Linked DNA regions of Homo sapiens. The protein of the gene in region 2 binds, or shares a complex with, the protein of the main gene of each other region. Each region holds a gene or a part of one and is shown on either strand. Other genes may lie near its edges.

Region 1 (7,031 bases), on a different chromosome or scaffold from region 2:
GGTTAAAAAGATACTAATAAGTTTTTGTGCGTGTAACATTTGACACCAGGCTTTTAAGTAAAACACCCTAAGATGGAACTTACTGTGTAGTGGAAAGAGTTAGACTCACTAGACATTGATTAGCTGACTGACATAGAGCGTTTCTTATCAGTCAACAAAACTATTTCCAGAGAGGCTTGAAATAAAACAGTTGACTTTATGTAGATTATGGTTAATATCTTTTGCAGATTTTCTAAGAAATCTTTCCCTATCAGAGGTCCCCAAAACATTCCTTTATCATTTTCCTTCTAAATCTTTTATACATGCTTAAGAAATATGCACATGCTCTAAATTGGGGGAACATGATCCTTTATGTATTAATTGAATCAACTTTGGTTACCATGTTGTTCTATTTACTTTTTTGCTGCTCGAGCTAAAAATTGAGTGACTTCAAATACAACATAATAGTTTTTTTTTCCGTTTTGCCCTCTACATTTTTACTTTAATAACTTTGTTTAGAACTGTTATACCTACTTCAGTTGAAATTTTTATTATTTTTGAGAGTCTCCTTATCCTTATTAATGCTTTTCACTTTAATATTTGTAAGGCTAATACTGATACAGCTATCCTAACCAGGTATATTTGCTTGTTTTATTTTCCCTAATTCTACTTTTTGTCTTTCTCTGTCCTTGTACTGTCTTTTGTAAACTGTATATATTGAACAAGGTAGACTTTTTTTTTTATTAATCTGGTGAGATAGGCAATTTATATTTATTGTAACCATTTATTATATACTATGCCATTTCTTTGCTTTTTCTATGCTTTTTCTTCCTTCTTGCATTTTTGTGGTCTATCAAAGTTGGGATTTCTAAAGTGTTTTTCCCTTATTTCAGAATGTTTCCTCTCTACTGGTTTGAAAGTTATATTGTATTGCTATTCTTTAAAGGTTATCTGAAAATTTTCTGTTAAGTACTTAGATTAACAACATCTAAAGTCATTCATTATCTTAACTTCCATCCTAAAGAGTATCAGGATCTTGGAGCACTCACACTAACTTCTAAGTGCTCCCGGACACTTTCCCCACATATACATTTCCTGAGTTATGTAAAATGTTGCTAGTATTTTAATTACGCTCTTTTTTACTCCACAGAGTAAATACTTCTTAATATAGACAGTATTTATTTACATTTCCCATGATTACTGATTTTTTAGCTCACCATACCTTCTTGCATCTCAGACTTTCCTCCTAGTCATTTTGCTGTACTCTAAAATTCATCTTTATTCTTAAGTGAAAGTCCCTTGTTTGTAAATTCTCATTTTGAGAAAAAAGTGTTTTTAATATACCCTTGATTTTGAAAGATAATTTCACTGGGCACTCATTCTATTGAGTTATTCTCTCAGTACCTTAATGATGTTATTCCACTGTCTTTTGCCTTCCAGTTTTGGCACTGAAAAGTCTACTGTTGGCCAGGTGCAGTGGCTCATGCCTCTAATCCCAGCATTTTGGGAGGCCAAGGCAGGTAGATCACCTGAAGTCAGGAGTTCGAGAACAGCCTGGCCAACATGGCAAAATCACGTCTTTACTAAAAATACAAAAAAATTAGCCAGGTTGTGGTGGCGCACACCTGTACTCCCAGCTACTCGGGAGGCTGAGGCAGGAGAATCAATTGAACCCGGGAAATGGAGGTTGCAGTGAGCAGAAATCACACCACTGCACTCCATCATGGGTGACAGAGCAAGACTCTGTCTCAAAAAAAAAAAAAAAAAAAAAAGGTCTGTCAATTCGTTATTCCTTTAAAAGTGGATAAGTTATTCTGGCTGCTTTTAAGATATCTTTGCCTTTATTGTTCTGAAGTTTGAGTATAATGAATATACATTGGCTTCCTTTTCCTGGTTGATATACATTTTGCTTCTTGTATATGTGGATCCACTTTTTTTTTTTTTAGACAGGGTACAGTGGCACCATCATAGCTCACTGCAGCCTTGAACTCCTGGGCTCGTGTGATCCTCCCTCCTCAGCCTCTTGAGTAGCTGGGACCACAGGTGTGTGCCACCATGCCTGGCTAATTTTTGTATTTTTTGTACAGATGGAGTTTCACCATGTTGCTCAGGCTGGTCTTAAACTCTTGGGCTCAAGTGATCCTCCCACTTGAGCCTCCCAAGTAGCTGGGACTACTGGTTCATGTCACCACATCTGGCTAATTCTTAATTTTTTTTGTAGAGATGGAGTGGGGGCTCTTGCTTCATTTCCCAGGTTGATCTCAAACTCCTGGCTTCAAGTGATCCTTCTGCTTTGGCCTCCCAAAATGCTGTGATTACAGGCATAAGCCACCATACCAGGTCCCAGGCTTTTCTTAGCTCTGGAAATTTGTCAGCAATTACCTCAATTTTTTTCTATTTTTTACTTCTTAGACTCCAATCAGCACATATTAAACCTTCCCATTCTATCCTTCAGGTCTCATAATCTCTAATTCTTATTTTCTATCCCTTTACCTGTTTTTGCTGCAATATGTTGTTTCCTCAGTTAAAACTTGATAGTCAACAATTCCTTTAGTTGTGGTGAATCTGCTCTTAAACCATTCATTATGTTATATATTTCAATAATTAAATTTCATACCTAAGTTGTCTTTGGTTCTTTTTAATATCTGCCTTTTAACACATCTCTCATTTCATGTTCGTTTTAATTCATACATTATTTAAACATATAACTGTTATTCTACTTCTGCTAATTGCAATACCTGAATTCCTTGAATATCTAAATCTACTGTTTCTCAATGCAAATGGTGTGTTTCCTTGCATGTTTGATTAATCTAGAAGCATTAATTAGGGAGGCTTTCCTTCGGAGGGGATTTTCATCCACTTCTTAGAGTAACCACCAGAGTCCACTGACTTAGGACTACTTTAATGCTTTAAAGCATTCCTGGTTTTATGAAGGAATCTTAGGTTCACTTTCTTTACTTTGCCTGGAGTCCATGGCTTAAGTCTCAGAGGCACAGTTTTCCTGTTTCTCAACTACTTTAATTTTAGCCCACTCTCATTGGTAATAGCCTTTAGTGATTATCTTTCTTTCTAATGAGCCAGGAAATGAACTAATATTATGTGTGTTGTATTTTATCCAAGAACTAACTGTATTTTAGCAGGAGGATCCTTGAGTATACCTAGTCAACCATATGGCAGGAAGCAGAAATCATCTACTTCGTAGTTGATTTTGGTAATTTGCATTTTTCATATAAATTATTCATTTTCTGTTTTGTGATATATTGGCATAAAGTTGTTTATAGTGTCTTATTATTTTAAAATCTATGTTTGGTTATTTATCTGTACTTTCATTCCTAAATTTTTTATGTCTTCTGTTTTTTTCCAAATCGGTTTCACCAAGTTATGTGTACTTTATTTATTTAAAGAGACCAACTTTTGTTTAAATTGATCCTCTCAAAAAAAAAAAAATTGATACTCTCTTCTATAGTATAGGTTTATACTCCAGGGGTCAACCAACATTTTCGGTAAAGGGCCAGAAATTTTAAAATTGAAAAATGCAGGAATCAATATGAAACACTTAATTGATAGGCTCAATAGCAGAATGGAAGCTACTGCAGAAAGAATGAATAAATCTGAAGATAAAATGATAGAAATTACACAGTCTGAACAACAGAAGAAAACAGGCAGAACAAAGATGAACAGAACCTCAGGGACTTACGGAACTACAATAAATCTAACATTTGTGTCATCAGAGTCTCAAAAGAAAGAAGAAAGAAGGAAGACTGAAAAAGTTCTTGAAAAAAATGACAGCTGAAAACTCCCCAAAATTGGCAAAAGACATAAACATATAGATGGTGAGAAGACCTCAAATATAATAAACCCCCCAAATCTACAAGATACATCATGGTTAAACAACTAAAAACTAAACACAAAGGAAAAAAAGAAAAAGAAAAAAGACAAATGACACCTATCTATAGGGACCAAAACAATTTAAAAAACTGGATTTCTCATGGGGAACCATGAAATTTTCTTTCCTTTTTTTTTTTTTTGACAAGGAGTCTCGTTCTGTTGCTCAGACTGGAGTACAGTGGTGCGATCTCAGCTCACTGTAATCTCCGCCTACGGGTTCAAGTGATTCTCCTGCCTCAGCTTCCCAAATGGCTGGGATTACAGATGTGCACCACCATGCCGGCTAATTTTTGTATTTTTAGTAGAGGCGGGGTTTCGCCATGTTAGCCAGGCTGGTCTCAAACTCCTGACCTCAAGTGATCTGCCCGCCTTGGCTTCCCAAAGTGCTGGGCTTACAGGCGTGAGCCACCCCTCTTGGCTGGAAGTGGCAGAACAATTTTCAAGTGCTGAAAGAAAAGAACTATAAACCTACAAGTCTATGTCTAATGTAAATATTCTTCAGATATCAAGGGAAAATCAAGACATTTTCAGATGAAAGAAAACTGAGAGAATTTGTTGCCAATGGAACTACAATAATAATAATAAGGCTAAAGGAGTGCTCTAAACAGAAAGGAAATGATAAATGAAGGAGTTTTGGAATATCAGACATCAAAAGTCTAACAAAAAATACAACCAAAAACTCTACATATAAATCTGAGAGCTTAGATGAAATGGACTAATTCATCTAAAAATACAAACTGTCACAACTCAATATGAAATAGATAAATTAAACAGCCATATAACTATTGTAAAAGTGGAAATTACAATAAAAAGAACTCCCTCCCCCAAAATCTCCAGGCCCAGATGATTTCATTGGAAAGTTCTATCAAATGTTTTAAAAAGCGCTGACACCAATTCTATACAATCCGCTTTAGAAAACAGAAGAGAAAGGAATACTTTCCAGTTCATTTTGAAGCTAGTATTACCCTGATACCACCAACCAGTATGTCGCATTAAAACAGATGCAAAAATCCTTAACAAAATATTAGCCAAAAGAATTAAGCTATATATACAAAGATACACCACGACCAAGTGGAGTTTATCTCAGGGATGTAACAATGGCTCAACATTCAAAAATCAATCAATGTATCTACCACATGAATGGGCTAAAGAAGAAAAATGGCATTATGTAAATTAAGGCAGAAAAAGCATTTGACAAAATTCAACATAAAATTCATAATAAAAACTTGCAGAAAAAAAGGAATAAAAGATAACTTCCTTAACTTTAGCAAGAGCATCTACTTTAAAAACCTACAGCTAACATTATACTTCATGGTGAAACACTGAATCCTTTCTGCCTAAGACCAGAAACAAGCCAAGGATCTCTACTCTCACTGCTTTTATTTCTGCTGGAATTTCTACCCACTGCATTAAGGGACTGAAAGGAAAAAAAAAAGGAATATAGGTCAGAAATGAAGAGATAAAACTATTCATTATTTGCAGATGACATGACTATCTATATAAAAAAAAAATCCCAAGGAATCAATCAAAATCCCCTAAAATGAGTAAGTGGGCTCAATAAGGTCTCAGTATACAAAATAGAAAAATTCACTTTATTTCTATGTACTTAGAATAGACATGTGAACAGGAAATTCAAAATACAATGCCATTTACAATCTCTCTCAAAAATTAAATTGCTTAGGTATAAATCTAACAAAACATGTACAGACCTTGTATGCTGAAAACCACACAATACTGATGAAGGAAAACAAAATTTAACTGAAATGAAGTGAAGTGATCCTGTGATCATGATCGGGAAGGCTTAACATGGTAAAGATGTCAAATCTCCCCAAATTGATGTATAGGTATAACATAGTTCCTGTCAAAATCCCAGTAAGATATTTGAATAGATACAGACAAGATTATTCCAAAGTTTATACGGGAAGACAAAGGAACTAAGTGGCTAAAACAATTTTGAAAAAGAAAGTGGAATAAACCAGCCTATTTGATTTCAAGACTTACTACAGTAATCAAGATTTTGGTGTTGGTGGAGGTATAGACACATAGTCTAATGGAAAAGAATAGAAAACCCAGATATAGACCCACACGAATGTGCCCAACTGATTTCTCATTAACTCATTTTTGCTCAACTGATTTTTGACAGAGGTGCAAAAACAATTCAATGGACAAAAAAGAGCCTTTTCGACAAATATCATGTTGGAGTAATTGAATATCCATAGGCAACAACAAAAAAAATGAACCCAGACCTAAGTCTCACATTTTATACAAAATTAACTGAAAATGGAATATAGACTTAAAAGTAAAACGTAAACTATAATACTTTTAGAAAACAACATAAAAGAGAAAATTTGGGGGATCTAAGGAGAGAGGCAAAGTTCTTGATACCAGAAGCATGATCCATAAAAAGAAAAATGGATAGAGTGGACTTCATCAAAATTAAACACTTCTGCTCTGTGAAAGGCCCAGAAAAGAGAAATGAAAAGACATGCTACTGACTGGGAGGAAATATTTGCAAATCACACATCCAACAAAGGACTAGTATCTAGAAAAAAATACACACACACACACACAGAGGCACACACACACATTATTTAAAAGCCCTCAAAACTCAACAGAAAAAAAATCCAATTAGAAAAGACATGAAGAAACATGTCACTAAAGAAGAGATACAGGTGGCAAATAAGCATATGAAACAAAGATGCTCAACATCATTGCCATTAGCGAAGGGAAAATGGTAAATCAAAACTGCAATGAGCTGTCACTATACACTTATCAGAATGACTAAAATAAAAAAGAGACACCACCAAATGCTGAAAAGGACATGAAGCAACTAGATCACTCATACACCACTGGTGGGTATATAAAATAGTACAGCTACTTGGTATAAGTTTGGCAATTTCTTAAAAACTAAACATTCAACTACTATATGACCCAACTACTATATAACTGCTGGGCATTTGACCCAGAAAACTAGATTATGTTCACACAAAAACTTGTACACAAATGTTTATAGCAACTTTATTTATAGTAGCCAAAAACTGGCCCAATGTCTCTCAGCAGGTGAACAGTTAAACAAACTGTGGTACATCTATACTATGGGATTCTATTCACACTAAAAAGTACCTGTCAATAGACTTGATACACATAATAAGCTGGATTAACCT
Region 2 (7,031 bases):
GTCGAGGAAGAGCAAGGAGAAGGAGCACATCACGAGGAAGAAGAGGATCCACACGCGGAAGCCAGCGTTGTTTTTAATGGCCTGGGCAGGGACGGGAGCACAGGTGTTTTTATCACACAGGATTTTGGTTTGAGCAGCCCTGAAATGCCCCCCTCTTCCCACGTGCTCTCCTGATCCTGGCTGTAACTATGGGTGTCGTTCCATCTGTGCTTACCTTGAATAGATGGCTTTTGAGATCCACCAGAAGACAAATGGGTTATATTTCCCTCTGTTTGGCCATCATTTGGGTCCTGCACAATTCTCCCTCAACACAACTCTCGGAATCACTCCCTTCTGTCCCAGGGTTAAGGGCCCCGAGCAGAGTGTGACCGCAAGCTTTGTGTTTCCCAGTAACATGATGTCCGTGGTGACCCAACCCTGAGGACTGAGCTTGGGAAACAGTCCCCTCAACAGGATGGCTGTAGTGTCCTCTGTAAGCAGGGGCCAGGCTCTGACCCCTCGGTGGGGGCCAACGAGCTACCCATGTACATCCCTGGACATGAAGAGCTGGCCTGACCCTGCCAGGAGTACCCCCACCCACCCTGGATTGCTCCTTTGGAGGCTGGTGAGCCACTGCCTCTCGAAAGCAGCTGGAGGTGGGCGACAGGTGGTGGGTCTCATGAACACACGCAGCTCCGCGGTCACACAATTTTGTGATCAGCCCCGTGAGCTCTGCCCAGCAAGGCTCCTGGGCAGCTGTGCCGGCGAGACTAACACCCGCTGCTGGGACTCAGTGCTGCGCCACGTCGCACCTGGGGAACCTAAACAGTGCCTACCTCTCTTATGTCTTCGTTGCCTTCCTTGATATTTTCAGTTGCCCCCACAACTAACTGGTGAATGCTGTCAATCTCAGCTTCCTGTGGAAGAAAAGATAAATACAAGTTGAGTATCCTTTATCCAAAAACCTGAAACCCAAAATGCTCCAACGAGCATTTCCTTTGAGTGTCATGTCAGCGCTCAGAAAGTTTCAGATTTTGGAGCACTTAGGACTTCACATTTTGAAGTTTAGGGATGCTTGACATATACAGCCACTTCCTCCTCCCTGAAGCGTATATCATGACAAGAACAGTAGCCGTCACCAAGGGCTAACGGCTTTACTTGCATAGCCACAAATCCTCACAGCACCCCAAGAAGTAGGTATTACCTCTATTTTATGAAACGGAAACTCACGGCTCAGAGAAGTTTACTAACTTGCCCAAAGTCACATCACACAGCAACCAAGTGGCAGGACTGAGACTTTTTTTTTTTTTGAGACAGGGCTTAAACGATCCTCCCACTTCAGCCTCCCAAGTAGCTGGGAGTATAGGCATGTGCCACCACGCCTGGCTAAATTTTTAAAATTTTTTGTAGAGATGGGGGGTCTCCCTATGTTGCCCAGGCTGGTCTTGAACTCTTGAGCTCACACCATGCTCCCGCCTCGGCCTCCCAGAGTGCTGGGATTACAGGCATGAGCCACCGCGCAGGGCTGAGACCCCATCTTGTTGCAGTGCTCCTTCCGCCACACTTACCATCCCTCCTGCGCCACTCGCCGGTGACGGACAAAAACCTAAGAGCTATTGTTTGTGGAGCAGCCACCATATGCCAGGGGCTTCCCTTCTAGTCTCTCATTTCTTTCTGAAGTCCACAGAAGTAAGCTTTAAAATGTATGTGCTTCGAAATACATATGCTAGCTTCAAAAATAGTGCTTTGTGTTTTACTATCATCATATCTCTTAAAAAACAGGCTAAAATTTAAAAATCAAAATAGGATGCAGGATGCTTACAGAAAACGTTTACTCCAAACGAAGCCTTGAAAAGCTTGAGAAGCGTGGGATAACACAGGGGGCGTCTGGCCCCACAGGAGCAGAGACGGTGCTAGACGTCCTTACAAGCAGGAGTGCCTGCTTCTCTCCTCCTTTCGGTGGTGGTGAAGCTGCTTCCTAACAGGGTCAGGGCAGAATGAATGCTAGCGTGGGTTTTTAGAGAAACCTGACTGACACATTGTAGGGAGGAAGGCAGCATGTGGCCTCTGATTCCCAGCAATGAATATTACTGGGATGGCTTTGCCTCATCATCACCCCTTTTTAGAGAGTCTCAAAGTGTGAACTAAGTGACCACTGCCAAGGTTCCAATGAGAGAATCAATATGAACTACAATGCAACACTGATGGAAAAAACAAGAAAGACACATTGTTCCTCAGGACTTAGGAACTCCCAGTGGGCCGGGCGCAGTGGCTCTCGTCTGTAATCCCAGCACTTTGGGAGGCCAAGGCAGGTGGATCACCTGAAGTCAGGAGTTCGGGACCAGCCTGGCCAAGATGGTGAAACCCCGTCTTTACTAAAAATACCAAAATTAGCCAGGCGTGGTGGCATGCCTGTAATCCCAGCTACTCAAGAGGCTGACTGAGGCAGGAGAATCGCTTGAACCTGGGAGGATGAGGTTGCAGTGAGCCAAGATAGCAACATTGCACTCCAGCCTGGGCGACACAGCAAGACTCTGTCTCCAAAAAAAAAAAAAAGAAAAAGAAAAAAAAAGAAAAGAAAAAGAAACTCCCGGTGAGCCAAGGCAAGGCTCTGCCTATGCTCTGCACGCCCCTCCCAGGCCCCCTGGAGCCGCTGGGAGGTTTGAAGCAGGGTAGTGTTATTAAAAAGGGCGACTCCTATGAACCCGAACTTGCAAACCACTGTTAGACTTAATGTACCTCATTTACAATGATTTCACTCTGGCTGTGTGGTTTATGGAAAGTCATTTTGTGAGTGAAGTATCTTAAGTCAAGTAGTCCAGTTTAAAATACTGGAGAAAATTTTGTCTTTCAAACGTTCCCATAGTCTTTGGATGCTAAAAATAAAAGGGCAAATTTATCAGGTCTTGAAAAGTTTTGCCAGTTATTGGCTGGAAGAATTTCAGAAAATTCACTTGAAAAGAACAATCCTATTTCCCACGCAGACACCATCCCTGAGGTGGCATGGACCGCGCGTTGTGAGAGGCCTGGGTCTGAGCTCCTGTAACCTACTGACTGAAAAGCAACTGCCCGTCAGCATCGTGCTGGATGCTTCTGCAGTTATCTCTCAAACAGAGAATAACCCTGCAGGAGTCCCTCCCTCCTATAGATGGGAAACTGTAGCTTGTGGGGGCTACCTAGCTTACCCAGCACATCCAGAACCCTGACTGCCAGGCCTGGACTCTCCTCCCACGTGCCACCGCATGTGCTACCACATGGGGTGGTCAGTGGGTCCCCTGTGGGGAGCTCCTCCTCCATCACACGTGTGCAGAGGCAGCTCTGGGTAGTGAGAGCTTTTCCCTGAGGAGCTCTGCGCACACACACCTGCTAGCAACACATGGCTCTGCTCCTGGCTGTGTAGAGCAGCAGCCTTTGGGAAAAATGTCTCGTGCTCTCAAGTACATTCCCCTTTGAGTGAAAACATACAGCTCCTTTGTTTTTGTTTTTTTACCTGTTGCAAAACCTTTTCCGTGAATATCTCTTGGAGTCTGGAAATCTCAACCACTCTCCCTTCGATTTGCCTTCATAAAAAGAACAGATTACATATTAACTATTAGCACTTGGTAATCTAACAGGACTGTTACACACTTCTAAAGAAATCCTATCTTCTACGTGAAGGTGGGAGAGACAGGGGGCACACTGTGTCGGCTGGGGGAAGAGGAGATGGGAGAGGAAGGCGAACTCTCCTTACTGGGTCACCTTCCCTGTCTTCTGGCATAGCCTAGCACACTGGTCTTTTTGGAAGTCCACTCTACCATGCCAACTGACCCTCAGTCCCAAGAGGTGGGTGTGTGCAGTGCCCTTTGCATTCTGTGTCACTGCTCGGGGAATGGGGAGGGCCTGGTTGTGCCCCAGTTACAGAAAGCAGTCTCCAGTAAGTTCTCTGCCTAGCCTCATCACCATGGTAACACATGGTGGGGATTCAGAAGGTCAGAATATGCTGATGATCCAGCTTTGTTAATGCTCAGCAGGTTAAAGAAAAAAGTGTATTTACCTTCAAACCAACTCCCTGTTCCAAGAAAAAAGCTCCTCTGATTCATTTAGAAAATGCCATGTCTTGGTTTGGCAACGGAGTGTTCTGTCGGATCTGAAACACTTGGGCTAGCCATCTTCCTGGTGTCAGGGGCAGCATGGGCTACCCTGGGGGGCGGGTGGGGGCACATCTATTTAGAAACAGAAGCTGGCCCAAGCTGAAGTCAACTGCTGTTCCAGCACAAAGCAGCGACAGGAAGTGACAGGAGGCAAAAAGTGGTGGGAGCTGAGCTCCTGGCCAGGTGGAAGCAGTGATGAATCCCAACAGTATCACAGTGGCAGGGGGCAGGGGAGGAGATGTGGGAAGAAAAGCCAGTGAGTATCTGGGCATGGGGGAGTAGCGGGGTGGGGGCGGTAGTGGGGCAGACAGTGAAAGCTAGGCTGTCAGAGGAGGACTAGGAGGTCCATCTCTGAGGGCAGAAGGCGAAGAGCCCCTTGGAGGCTGACACCTACACTGAGAAAGTCCTCAGGCTGTGTGAGTGCAGCATCAGGATTGATTTTATTTGGGGGACATGTCCACAATACAACAGGCTCTGCAAAGTCCTGGGCCTTACTTTCAGCATGCTCCAAGCCTTCCCACAGAAACTAGAGGCTAACGGGTGCATGTGTGAGTGACCAAGGCCTTGCCTTCTGCATTCCTGACTCCCTGGTGGGTACAGGAGCAGGCAGACCCCAGTGGAACCATTTGCAGAAGAGGGCTTCCCTTGGTTAGCTGCCCTTCATAAGGGCCCCATTTCATTTCAGAGTCGCTGCGTGGAAACAGCCCGAATGGTGGTGGAAATTATACGCAGGTAATCTGTAGTCACTCCTGTATCTCTCGGGGTGGGAAGCACCTGGGCCCCCCGCAGCAGTGGCAGCAGGCAGGAGGTAACCCACAGGCCCACAAGCTGAGGGAGTTGTGGATTCAGGCCACATGCCCACCCCAGCCCAGTCAAAATGGCTGAGGGGGGCTGCACCAGCCCAAGGGCCCCATGGGGATGCCTGGGCACCAAGGTAAATAAAGTTCCTAGTTCCTGGAAAAGTTGTAAAGCAGGCTATCAGCTCACAGAGGAGCTACAAACATACCTCACTTCATCAAACAAGCTGTTCATTTCACCAATTAGTCGCTGATTTTCCTGTTCAAACTGTGAGGAAACAGACACACTCAGGATGACATCATACTGAACTTAGGCAAGAGTCTAGCAAGAAAGCGGACCTACGCTCCAGGAATCACTGCCGAAGCCCCCATTTCCAGCTGCGGCAACGTGGCAGCCGGTGCTGGACGACCGTTAGCATTAGTGTGAACAACGTCCCTGCTTTCAGGAGAAAGTTTTAAAAAACAGCTGTGCTGCCTGGTAATTGACTTCTCCATCTCAACCACTGCACTCCAGGGGTACAAGCTGACTGCTATGGCTGTAGCTGTATCTACCTACCCGCTCTCCCCTGGGATCCCACGGCCTGCTTCCTGACTCTAGTACCATTATTAAGAAAATTCTTTTGTTGTTGTTTTCTCTCATGAACTATACTGAAGGACTATACATATTTTTTAATATGGAGAAGGATCTGGTGTGGGGAGGGTCTGGAGAGGAAGGGGAGGTGGGCAGCTTGGCCGAGCTGCCTCTGGGCCCCTCTGACTTCAGAGCCTGGCCACTCCACTGCTCAACAGGGACAGAGGCCCAGAGCCAGAGGAGCGTGTTTCCCAGTGCTCAGGCTGGGTGAGGACGGGTGCCCTGACACCAGGGATACATGGGAGCTTCTTGGAGCTGAGTGAGCTTGGCACAGACAGTTGCTCTCCCAGCCATTCTTGCCAGTTTGATATGGGCCAAAGAAAAGGATGGAAGCTCCTGAAACTCAGCACAGAGAATGGACAGGAACAGCTCCTTGCCCTCACTGCAGGCCCCCACAGCCCTGTCCTCGTGTGTCCACTCAACTCCCGCAATGTGCAGGGAGTCAGGGGCGTCCTGCATTTCCTCCCCGATGCATCCCGCAGGCCCCACTTCTCCAGGACACCTACCCTGGCCCCTAAGCTCAAACTTATTTCTCATATTCCTATCCTTGGCCTACCATTTTCTGAAAATATCTTAGGATAGTAGCGCCCAACGGTCCCTTTCTGCCTTGTAATAAACTGTGCCCATCCCAAACTTCCCGTGTCACCCTGAGCTTCCTGAGGGCGGGAACTGGGTGGAACATAACTTTGCAAAGGCATTCCAGTTGTTCTTTCTTTCTTATAGATTAAAGCTGCCATCAAATCCACAAATATTTTCTGAGGCATTCTGTAAGCAGGAGTGGGAGGGATACATACAAGCAAGCCTCTGGAGGCTCCGAATCGATGGAAGATCTGGCTTATCACTTGCTTAGTAAACCAAAAATACAAGGGAAACAATGGTTATGGGAGGCAGCTGACCACCACGGGCTATGCTGGCACTTCATTCAACAGCCTGACCTTGTTGCCATTGTCCTAGGGCGGAAATGAGTTGCAGGGTCTCCCCAGCAGCCTCCTTCCCACCCAGGACCCCTCCCCTCCAAGTACCCCAGCTGTGCTCTATGCAGGCGCTCTTCACACACACGCCCCTTCCTAAGTCCACCAGTTTCGCCCCCGCACATGCACTTGCTGTATTCAGCCCTTCCCCTACCGTCCACATTCCACCCTCACCGTTTCTCACTTGCCTCCAACCTGTTATCCAATCCTTGGTCAAAGTGATCTCAAGTGCTGGTCATGCCAGAATGCCTCATGGTGGCCTTGCCCGCTGACCCTACAGATCAGGTCTAGGGCACACTGTTATCCATGCCCTGGCCACGTGACATCTCCCATCTCAGCTCTGCTCTGACAGGCTAGTTTCCTGCCTGGCTGCAGAACTCCACGTGGTCCCTCAAAACCCCAGGCATCTTCCTAGCGATCTGATACCTCAGGGCAGACTGAATCACCTTCTCTTACTTTCTCACTCTTGTTACCAAGTTCCCCTGTACTTGGCTCTTCAAGGACATTTCTCACACTTGTTCAG

The links. The genes of interacting proteins can lie anywhere in the genome.
Region 1: STX18 (region 2) and STX7 share a complex: the UniProt entries of both Homo sapiens proteins name them as parts of the SNARE complex.

The regions. Positions count from the first base shown.
Region 1 is NC_000006.12:132,447,109-132,454,139, forward strand, and holds part of STX7 (syntaxin-7), read right to left. Parts: 3' UTR 1-7,031. UniProt on the Homo sapiens protein: May be involved in protein trafficking from the plasma membrane to the early endosome (EE) as well as in homotypic fusion of endocytic organelles. Mediates the endocytic trafficking from early endosomes to late endosomes and lysosomes.
Region 2 is NC_000004.12:4,420,049-4,427,079, forward strand, and holds part of STX18 (syntaxin-18), read right to left. Parts: intron 5,175-7,031; coding exon 5,116-5,174; intron 3,540-5,115; coding exon 3,470-3,539; intron 897-3,469; coding exon 816-896; intron 82-815; coding exon 1-81. UniProt on the Homo sapiens protein: Syntaxin that may be involved in targeting and fusion of Golgi-derived retrograde transport vesicles with the ER.